Linked DNA regions of Homo sapiens: all the other regions are linked to region 3. Evidence: fine-mapped expression QTL. A gene starts in region 3. Each other region holds a variant in brackets. All regions are shown on one strand. Distances are between the middles of the regions.

Region 1 (2,617 bases), 45 kb after region 3:
TCCTCATTAAGAGATGGGGAAACATCTTGGAGAGGAGACATTTCTGTGACATGATCCCCATGTATGTTTTCTTGGGAACAGGGACACTTGGGATCTCCCCTCACCGTTGCTTCCCAGAGGTCCCTTGGCATCTGCTTGGTGAACATATCCCTTTGGTTGACTCACGCCTTCCCACACCCTCCCTCTTAAGGCTTCTACTGCTCTCTGATCCTAATGGGAGTAGGACCTTGAGGAGGAGCAGGGATACAGCCAGGAAAGCTCCCCAAAACTGCCTCCCAGCCTTGCATAGACAAGCAGGAGGTTGAGGCAAGGGGAAAGGTGTCAGGCTCAGAGATGAGGATCAGCTTCCTGCTTTGGGGAAGGTTTTTCAGCATTAGGGTAGATCCAGGGACAAGAGACGAATGGGCATTGCTTCTTTGTGCTAGACCCCTTGAAGACAGTATTTTCTAAGCTTCATCTTTGCTACCCCCAAGAGACTGGGAGAATCAGCTCAGTCTGCATCTTTGTGTTCCTGATGAGGAAATGCAGGGGTAGAGAAGTTAAATGGCTCACCCAAGGTCATAGTGCGTGTGAGAGTCCAGATTAGACTCAGCCCCCTCCATCAGAGGCAGAATTTTAGTTGGTAGGATAGCTATCTGGGATCAGGATGGAAACTTTCACAGTCAGTCCTCTTCCCATCCTAGACTGGGATGAAGAGCAGGTGGTAAGGAACAATTCTTGTCACTTTGGAGGAAGACTTAGGGAGGGATGTGAACACCCTGTGAGAAAAGGGGAGGGTAAACTCCCATCTGGGAGTCCCTCTATCTCAGTGTTGTTGGCTTTCAAGCAGTCCAGCCCCTGAGGGAAGACTCAGCGAAAGTCAGAATTCTGTTCCCCTGCCAAGCCCAGCCTTCTTTTGTCTCGATTATCAGAATTCAGTGACGCGCAGCGCCCCCATCAACAGTGACAGCCAGGGTCGGTGTGGCACGCGTTTCCTCACCACCTACGACCGGCGCTTTGTCATCAAGACTGTGTCCAGCGAGGACGTGGCGGAGATGCACAACATCTTAAAGAAATACCACCAGGTATGGTGAGTCCCAAGCCTGGGCTGCAGAGGATGGGTTGGAAGAGGGAGAAGAGAGCCCTGGGGGAGCTTCTTAGGGAGGGGTTGGTCCTCTCTGGTAATGGCAGCTGCTTCTGATCACCAAGCAGTGGGACTCTCCTGCAACCGTATTTCTGTGAGCTGAAATGCCTACTTTAAAAAAGAAAAAAGGAGCCATGAAGGCTCATCGCTGACTGACTCCCAGTTGGAAAGTGTTCACGCACTGGCATCCGCCCCGTTTCTTCTGAAAGAGGCCCCCTCAGCTCGGCAGGCTTGTTTCTTTTCCCGTCCCATCTCTCCACTCATCTGGAACCTGTCCATGAG[GA/A]AGGCAGGGAGCCCCGTGGCACCATCTGTGTGTCTGTCCTCAGCCTACTTGGGTCTTCATTTCTGGGGCACCTGAGAAGGGCCGAAGGGAGCTTCTGGTCTTTCAGGAGTTATGGCAGAAACCCTGGGGCATGGCATGGATAAGAGCTTTGGATATGGAGCTGTTCTCTTCTCCCAGATGGCTGGATCCCTGGCCTGCCTCTGCATCCTGTCTCTTCCCTGCGGCATTCCCATATCAGGCTGGCAGAAGAGATGCAAGGTGTGGATCAGGGATTTTCCTGTGGTAGAATCCTACTTTAAACAAAATCTTAGGTGAGATACTAATAATATGAACCCACAGGGGCTCTGAGCCACCTGCTCAGCTTGCCTCTCCCTCTGCCATGCCAACAGGAGGCTGGAGGTGGCTGTTGCCCATTTTAAGCCTGAGAAACCCCTATTACTTCATAGAACCCAGCTGGAGAACTACTGGTCTAGAGGTTAGAATCCCAGGGAGCCAGGGAGCATTTTAGTCTGGGGTGAGCCCCATCCATCCCTGGCACTGCCTGTTCCTTAGTCCTCTCTCTTCTTCCTTTCCATTCTAGTTTATAGTGGAGTGTCATGGCAACACGCTTTTGCCACAGTTCCTGGGCATGTACCGCCTGACCGTGGATGGTGTGGAAACCTACATGGTGGTTACCAGGAACGTGTTCAGCCATCGGCTCACTGTGCATCGCAAGTATGACCTCAAGGTAAAGGGCTCTGTGTTTGCCGGAGCTGTGCCTCCCCTCTATCTGAGCCCCGAAGGGGCCACTACTCCAACTTCCATGTAATTGGGAAGCTGGAGCCTATGTGTTGGCATGGACAGGGAACTCTGGAGTGGATATGCCTGATTCTTGTGGACCAAAGGCAGTTTGAAGTCCAGGTGACAGTAACAGGAGATTATTTAAGCCCTAAATGTGCCATATTTATGCAGCAGTTGATGTTCCTGTCTGTGGAATGTGCACAGTGAGGGAGGCCGTGCTGACGCATGCACTTTAGCATCCATCAGGCCCCCATGGACTGCCAGCACAAGTGCATCTCTAGACTCTGAGAAGGACACACTTGTGGCTGTGAACTAGGGTGCTCCGTGTTCTTGAACCTGGCTTCTGACTTCTGTCACCTTATGCCGCCATCCCTTCCCTCTGTGCTGCAACTGGGCTGGTTTCCTCTGTGTTCCTGCAGTGCCTGTGCTCC
Region 2 (2,617 bases), 30 kb after region 3:
TCTCATTGTGATTTTGTTTGTTTGTTTGTTTTTGTGATGGAGTCTCACTCCGTCACCCAGGCTGGAGTGCAGTGGTGCAATCTCGGCTCACCGCAACCTCCACCTCCCGGGTTCAAGCAATTCTCCTGCTTCAGCCTCCTCAGTAGCTGGGATTACAGATGCCTGCCACCACACGTGGCTAATTTTTTTATTTTAGTAGAGACAAGGTTTCACCATGTCGGCCAGGCTTGTCTCAAACTCCTGACCTCAGGTGATCCACCTGCCTCGGCCTCCCAAAGTGCTGGGATTACAGGCATGAGCCATCGCACCCGGCCTCATTGTGACTTTGATTGGCATTTCTGTGATAACTAATGATGTTGAGCATTTTTTCATGTACTTACTGGCCATTTGTACATATTCTTTTCTTTTTTTTTTTTTCTTGAGACAGAGTCTTGCTCTGTCGCCCAGGCTGGAGTTTAGTGCCACAATCTCAGTTCACTGTAACCTCCGCCTCCTTGGTTCAAGCGATTCTCCTGCCTCAGCCTCCCAAGTACCTCGGATTACAGGTGCCTGCCACCACACCCAGCTAACTTTTGTATTCTTAGTAGATATGGAGTTTTACCATGTTGTCCAGGCTGATCTCAAACTCCTAACCTCAGGTGATCCACCTGCCTTGGCTTCCCAGAGTGCTGGGATTACAGGTGTGAGCCACTGTGCCTGGCCTGTACATTTTCTTTTTGTTGTTGTTGTAGAGACAGGGTCTCGCTTTGTTGCCGAGGCTGGTCCTGAACTCCTGGCCTCAAGTGGTCCTCCCGCCTTGGCCTCCCAAAGGACTGGGATTGCAGGCATGAGCCACATCCCCAGCCTTCATTGGTATCTTTTCTTTGGAGAATGTCTATTAAATTTTTTGCCCATTTACAAAGATCTTTTTGCCCATTATTAAATTGGGTTATCTTCTTATTATTGAGTTACAAGAATTCTTTTTATATTCTAGATACAGGTCCCTTATCAGATATATGATTTGCAAATATTTTATCCTATTCATTGAGTTGTCTTTTTCATTTTTCTTTTTTTTTTTTTTTTTTTTTTTTTGAGATGGAGTTTTGCTCTGTCGCCCTGGCTGGAGTGCAACGGTGTGATC[T/C]TGGCTCACTGCAACCTCTGCCTCCCGGGTTCAAGCGATTCTCCTGCCTCAGCCTCCTGAGTAACTGGGATTACAGGTGCCCGCCACCACACCAGGCTAATTTTTGTATTTTTAGTAGAGACAGGGTTTTGCCATGTTGGCCAGACTGGTCTCGAACTCCTGGCCTCAAGCAATCCCCCCGCCTCGGCCTCCCAAAGTGGTGGGATTACAGGCGTGAGCCACTGCACCTGGCCTGCCTTTTTCATTTTTCTTATGGTATCTTTTGAAGTTCAAGTTTTTAACTTTAATAAAGTCCAGTTTATCTTTTTTGTTGTTGTTGTGTGTGCTTTTGGTGTTATATCTAAGAAGACATTGCCTAACCCAAGGTCATGAAGATTTACTCCTTTGTTTTCTTCTAAAAGTTTTATAGTTCTAGCTCTTTTTTTTTTTTTTTTTTTTTTTAATGAATTGGGGTTTCTCTGTATTGCCCAGGATGTTCTCAAACTTCTGGCCTGAAGCAATCCTCCCAACTAGAGTTTTAGCTCTTTCTTTCTTCTTCTTCTTTTTTTTTTTTTAATTGTATTGTGGTCAGAACATTTAACATAAGATGTACTCTCATGACAAAATTTTAAGTGTACGATTATGTTATTGATGACCATGGGAACAGTGTCATAGTGCAGCTCTGTAGAGCGTATTCATCTCGCTTGAATGAAACTTTATGCCTACCAATTAACTCCCCATTTCCCCCGCCCCCAGCCCCTGGCAACCACCATTCTACTCTTTGTTTCTATGAATTGGACTGTTTTGAAACCTTATATAAGGAGAATCATGCAATATATGTTTTTCTGCGACTAGCTGATCTCAGCGTAAGGTGCTCAAGGTTCATCCATGTTGCACATAGCAGAATTTCCTTCTTTTATTAAGGCTGAATAGTATTCTGTTGTATATGTATACCACATTTTCTTTATCATCTGTTGATGGATTTGTTTTCACACCTTAGCTCTTGTGAATAGTGCTGGAGTATGTATAGTTTTAGTTCTTACATTTAAGTCTGTAATCCATTTTGAATTCACTTTTGGGTATGGTGTGAGGGACAGATTTATTCTTTAGTCTGCTCAATTTCTCTCCTACATTCCACCCCAGTTCTGTTCTGTCCATACATTTTCTTTCTTTCTTGTTTTTTTTTTTGTTTGTTTTTTTGAGGCAGGGTCTCGCGCTCTTGCACAGGCTGAAGTGCAGTGGCACAATCACGGCTCAATGAAGCCCCTACCTCCCCATGCTCAGGTGATTCTCCTGCCTTAGCCACCCGAGTAGCTGGGACTACAGGCACATGCCACCACACCCGACTAACACTTGTATTTTTTGAAGAGTCGGGGTTTTGCCATGTTGCCCAGGCTGGTCTCGAAATCCTGGGCTCAAGCGATTTGCCCACCTCGGTCTTCCAAAGTGCTAGGATTACAGGCGTGAGCCACTGACCTCCTTTACCTGTCTTTTTATCTTGCCCTACTGCTTTAAAAA
Region 3 (2,617 bases):
CACCTGTAATCCCAGCACTTTAGGAGGCCGAGGTAGGAGGATTGCTTGAGTCCAGGAGTTTGAGACAAGCCTGGGTAAGATGGCAAAACCCTGTTGCTACAAAAATAAAAATAGCCAGGCGCGGTGGCTTATGTCTGTAATCCCAACACTTTGGGAGGCTGAGGCGGGGAGATCACTTGAGGTCGAAATTCGAGACAAGCCTGAGCAACATGGTGAAACCCTGTCTCTACAAAAAATACAAAAATTAGCCGGGCGGGTGGCGGGCGCCTGTAATCCCAGCGACTTGGGAGGCTGAGGCAGGAGAATTGCTGTCCGGGAGGCGGAGGTTGCAGTCAGCTTCGACCGCAGCCTGGGAGAGCAAAACTCCTTCTCAAAAAACAAAAACAAAGGGAGAAGAAGAAAAAGAAAAAGAAAAAAGAAAAACATGCCAAAAACACATAGTAACTGAAGGGAAAGGAATCTGCCAGCTTCCCACTATGGGAAAATCTGCCACTGTGGAAGCTGGCAGATTTTAAAAGTTTGGCAAACGGAAGCTGATGGAATTTCGATTTGATGGTTTCTATTTAGCTTCGTAAAATAGGCCTGGCATAAGGGGATTTGCTGTGAGTCAAGGTCTGAGGAAAGCGCCAGTTTGCAAAGCCGTTTTGGAAAACTGGAGCGTGGGGGTGTGTGCAGGGTGAGGGGAGGAGGCCTAGTCTGGTCCACCTTAGGTCTAGCAGAGACTACGTGGAGCTTTGAGCCGAATGCCCTGGTGAGCTGCCATGGCAACACAGCCGTGGGCACAGGCCCACGGCAACCCATCACTGAACAGAGTTGTGGCGTTTCAACAGAGAGTCTGGGACATCAGGCAACGTGGCGACCCGAAGCAGCCAAAATGAGACCTCGACAGCAAAGGCCTCGACAGCGGAGCCCGGACCTTTGCAAAATCTGCAAGTAACGCCAACGTCACAAAGCGCGACCGAGCCCTGTACGTCATCGTTCCGCGACGCCGACGCGGTGAGATGACGCCCTCCCGGAAGTGACCTCTAGAGCGGTGGTGAAACTGGCAGTTGACGGCTCCTGGGACTAGATCCCGCGAGGTAGCCCCCGAACTATTTCTCTACGTTTTCTCTTGATCCTCCCGAAATCTTCCAGATCCGCGTAGTGAGGAATCGTCTCCACCGTCATGGGGGGCGGAGACCTGGTGAGTGGAGGGAGGCCTGGGCGGGGGAGGACTGAGGCCGGGACGGAAATTGGCAGGGGGTGGGGGTAGAGGAAGGAGTGGATAACCATGGCAACGCAGCTTTGCTTTCGCCGGGAGGAGGCCGTTGCCCTGAAGAGGGGATGGATCCTTAGGGCAATGGAGGGGTGGGACTGAGATTTGGGAAAGTCCGAGGTGTGTCGCGAACAGTGACAGGTGGTGTTTGCGTGTTTGTTGACTGCGGCTCTACCGGCTGTAAATTCTGGGAAGACCGGGGAGGGGGCGGATGGAGCCATGGCTAGGAAAGGAGGTAGATATGGAGGACGTGTCACCACACTTTGTTTTGTATATCTTGTCTTGCCACACACCTCTCTTCCTTGGGTGAGAGTTCAGAGTCATGTCCTGGACTGAAGTAGGGGTGGTTTGTGCCCCATTCTCCCTACCCTAAGCCATGCCCTGGGGTCGTTTTTTATTTTTTATTTTTTTGAGACGGAGTTTCTTGTTGCCCAGGCTGGAGTGCCATGGCGCGATCTCGGCTGACCGCAACCTTTCCCTCCTGGGTTCAAGCGATTCTCCTGCCTCAGCCTCCCGAGTAGCTGGGATTACAGGCATGCGCCACCACACCCGGCTAATTTTGTATTTTTAGTAGAGACAGGGTTTCTCCATGTTGGTCAGGCTGGTCTCGATCTGCCGACCTCAAGTGATCCGCCCGCCTCGGCCTCCCAGAGTGCTAGGATTACAAGGGTTAGCCACAGCGCCCGGCCCTGGGGTCCTTTTTAAGCCTGAAGGGATCTTCCTGTCCATCTTTCTGACTTCCACACCTCCTTCAGTGCTGGATTCTGATCTGTAGTGGCAGAGCTTGCTTTTGAATTCATACCACTTAATATAAGTTATGTGGCAATGTCTCTTAAACTGAAACGTTCATTTGTAAAGCGCTAAGGCCCCAAATAGGGTAAATGTACCCACAAGAGCATGGGGCAAGGTTGGGAAAATGCTAGCCTCCGGAAAGTGGAGCTAATTGAACCAGCAAGTAGATCAGCTTAGCCGCCTGCCCAGTAAACCTATTAGTTTGTCATGTGTTCTCAATCACAGTGAGTGCCAGGACTCCATCTAGTTTCATCCAATTTAGTGTATTCTTCACATAACTGCATTTAAGGACAGGAAAGCTCTAATCCAGGGTTTCTCAACATTAGCGCTCTTGACAGTTTGGCCTAGATAATTCTTTGGGGGTGTGTGGTAGTGGTGGTAGTTGGGCTGTCCTGTGCATTGTAGAATGTTTAGCAGCATCACTGGCCTCTAGCCACTAGACTGGAGCTATCCACTAACACCCGTCTCCACCAGTTGTGACAGCCAAAAATGACTCCAGAAGATTTTCTCCCTGGGGAGCAAAATAATCTATGCTTGAGGCAGGGAGGACAAGATGGGAAGGGTTAGAGG
Region 4 (2,500 bases), 24 kb after region 3:
ATGAAGCTGGAGAGTGCATCTACTTCCTCCCTGGAGGATCGGGTGAAGCGGAATATCTACTCTTTACAGAGAACTTCGGTAGCTCTGGAGAAGAACTTTATGAAAAGATGAAAACTGTCCCCTCTCTTATTGGTTTTCCTGCATTTTCCAGGGAAGCTGCTGACCCCTTAATTCTCTTTATAAGAGTTCAAATGACTTCTTTCACAGATGTCAAACCACCAGTGTTCAAAGTGACCCTGCTTCATTGAGTCCTGAAACAGCTCACTTCCTTTGAGAGCTAGTGTGACTTGCTTTGTGGGACACTCAGTAACTTTGGGTTTTGACTCTTTAACGGGTGGGCACTGGACCATCTCGGTGGGAGTGCTTGTGCCACTCTGGAAGGCTGTTCCCTGGGGTTGTGATGTTTATCATGCCACTTCCTTCTTACCTGTGCCAACAGACCTATTTCACTGCCTCAGCGTACACCAGACCCTTCAGAAACCTCTCTGGTGTCACCCAGATAGATTGTGCTTACTGAGACAAATGAACGTTTACTTGATTTAGAAGATAATGTGACAGAATGATGTCAGGTTAGGTCAAAGCCAAGGGAGTGACAGAATCTGGAAAATCAAACAATACAAAAAGCCCTAAATGAACTGTTAACTATTTGATCTTTGGATGTAAAATTGTAATGCGTATATGTACAAATGTACAATTTTTACATGCTTTTAAAAAAGGTTAGCTTTGTGAAAATACCTTGTTTGGTCAATGACTTTACTGGGTAATAGAACCACATTGAACCTTGATGGCAAGTAATACAATAAGGCAGGCCAGCTCGTTTTTCTCTCTGAATCTGGCTGGTTTAGGAGGAGCCTGGGTTTATCGACGAGATCTGGAGTATCTATTCTTTTCCACTGCTTGCAGTCTCCAATGTAGGCAGTGTAAAGGTATAGTAAAATGATTTTAGGAGTCAGAACCAAATTGCCAATATGCTCCATGGCTCCTAAAGGAAAATAAAATGGAAGTTTTTATTTTGCGGCTTCACTTCTTACCGTGTAGTAACCTTACTACAATTACAGATTTTCAGGAGTTGTTTGCTAGTCTCTTTCAGTCAGGTACTAAAAAAAAAACAAAAAACAGGCTGGGCGCGGTGGCTCACACCTGTAATCTCAGCACTTTGGGAGGCTGAGGTGGGCGGATCACGAGGTCAGGAGATCGAGACCATCCTGGCGAACACGGTGAAACCCCGTCTCTACTAAAAAAATACAAAAAATTAGCCGGGCGTGGTGGCGGGCGCCTGTAGTCCCAGCTACTCGGGAGGCTGAGGCAGGAGAATGGCGTGAACCCAGGAGGCGGAGCTTGCAGTGAGCCGAGATTGTGCCACCGCACTCCAGCCTGGGTGACAGAGCGAGATTCCGTCTCAAAAAA[C/T]AACAGCAACAAAACAAAACCCTCGAGGGGCCACTCTCCTGTCTTTACTCCTTTTCCCTTCTCTATTCTTTCACCAGAAGCCCTCATTTGACCAGTGAACTCCTAGGCCCTCTTGACCCGCACATTAGCTGGGCGATTTCCTTGTTCTGCTAATTCCTAATTCTGCTTAAAATGTATTTGGATTTCTGTTTTTGAACACTTATGATGCCAGGCACTGTAATGCTTGAAACCCGATCTTTCCCTAGAGAATGTAACATACGTTTTTATTCATTTAATCACTTCATTATGCCGGGGTTAATTATGTTTATTTTATAATTGGTAATAAAGGCCACATTTATTTTTGTAACTGTTTAAAGAGCGACCACCTGTGGAGTACCGTGTTTACGAATTTCCATGCAGAAAGAACAACGTTGACCTGTAATTTGTGTCGAATATATGGAGATCCCTCATCTGAGAATTATGTAACAAAGCGTGGGGCAGTTTACTCAAAGATTTTACGAAATGAGCCAGAGTAAGACGATTAGTGGGATAGGTGTCTGAAGGTGCTGGCGGCCTCTGAGCTCTGACCCTTTGCGGGGAGAACAGGCAGCAGGTGGGTGGGCGCGGGGCCCATTCATAAAAACCAGTGTTCCTGGCCTGCTTCTCTCATTGGCCCTGGGGGCAAGGGGCGTGCCCCGCGGGTGGAGCGCGCCCGGGGCCCAGCAGAGTGGGCAGATCCACGCTTAGGTGGAGCGAGGGGGCGTTCCTTGGCTTTCTAGGCTGGACTTTCTCTTCCCCTTGCTGCGTCCCTCCTCTCCCCCGGGGTGGGCATGGTACGTCCCGCCCTCCTCGCATTCCCGTCCCTCCTTCCCTTCCGGAGCGGTGGCATCGCCGCCATCTTGGCATTCGGGTTGCGGGAAAGAGCCAAACCCTGGCGTTGGGGGGCCCGGGCGGGGAGCCCCTCCCGCGGTCCACAGCGACGCCTGCCCAGCCCTCCTCCCCTTCCGGCTCCGGCACGGGGCCCCGAGGCGTTCGGAGGCCAGGCGGGTTTCTGTCAGGCCCGGGGAGGAGGGGCGGGCGGGGCGGCCGCTGCCTCCCCGGGACGGGCCGTACC

Evidence for each region. PIP is the estimated chance that this variant, and not a neighbour inherited with it, causes the effect.
Region 1: its variant is the best candidate, but not a certain one, in a credible set for the expression of CWC25 in blood mononuclear cells (TOPMed, PIP 0.80).
Region 2: its variant is the best candidate, but not a certain one, in a credible set for the expression of CWC25 in whole blood (INTERVAL, PIP 0.63).
Region 4: its variant is the best candidate, but not a certain one, in a credible set for the expression of CWC25 in whole blood (TOPMed, PIP 0.57).

What each region holds. Positions count from the first base shown.
Region 1 is chr17:38,778,899-38,781,515 of GRCh38, reverse strand. PIP4K2B (phosphatidylinositol-5-phosphate 4-kinase type 2 beta) reads left to right here. Exons shown (of 10, transcript NM_003559.5): 4 at 912-1,064; 5 at 1,987-2,133. Among named protein-coding and RNA genes, the nearest start is that of PIP4K2B, 19 kb to the left of the region's middle. The variant GA/A (reference allele first, on the strand shown) is at 1,406.
Region 2 is chr17:38,793,554-38,796,170 of GRCh38, reverse strand. The region is part of intron 1 of PIP4K2B (phosphatidylinositol-5-phosphate 4-kinase type 2 beta); the gene reads left to right. Among named protein-coding and RNA genes, the nearest start is that of PIP4K2B, 4.7 kb to the left of the region's middle. The variant T/C (reference allele first, on the strand shown) is at 1,121.
Region 3 is chr17:38,823,732-38,826,348 of GRCh38, reverse strand. It overlaps CWC25 (CWC25 spliceosome associated protein), which reads left to right and starts at 1,028. Exons shown (of 10, transcript NM_017748.5): 1 at 1,028-1,183. The coding sequence starts at 1,166. MIR4727 (microRNA 4727) reads right to left here and starts at 511; the gene lies at 457-511. RefSeq lists an enhancer at 1,689-2,320.
Region 4 is chr17:38,799,703-38,802,202 of GRCh38, reverse strand. CWC25 (CWC25 spliceosome associated protein) reads left to right here. Exons shown (of 10, transcript NM_017748.5): 10 at 1-1,762. The coding sequence ends at 111. Among named protein-coding and RNA genes, the nearest start is that of PIP4K2B, 1.4 kb to the right of the region's middle. The variant C/T (reference allele first, on the strand shown) is at 1,408.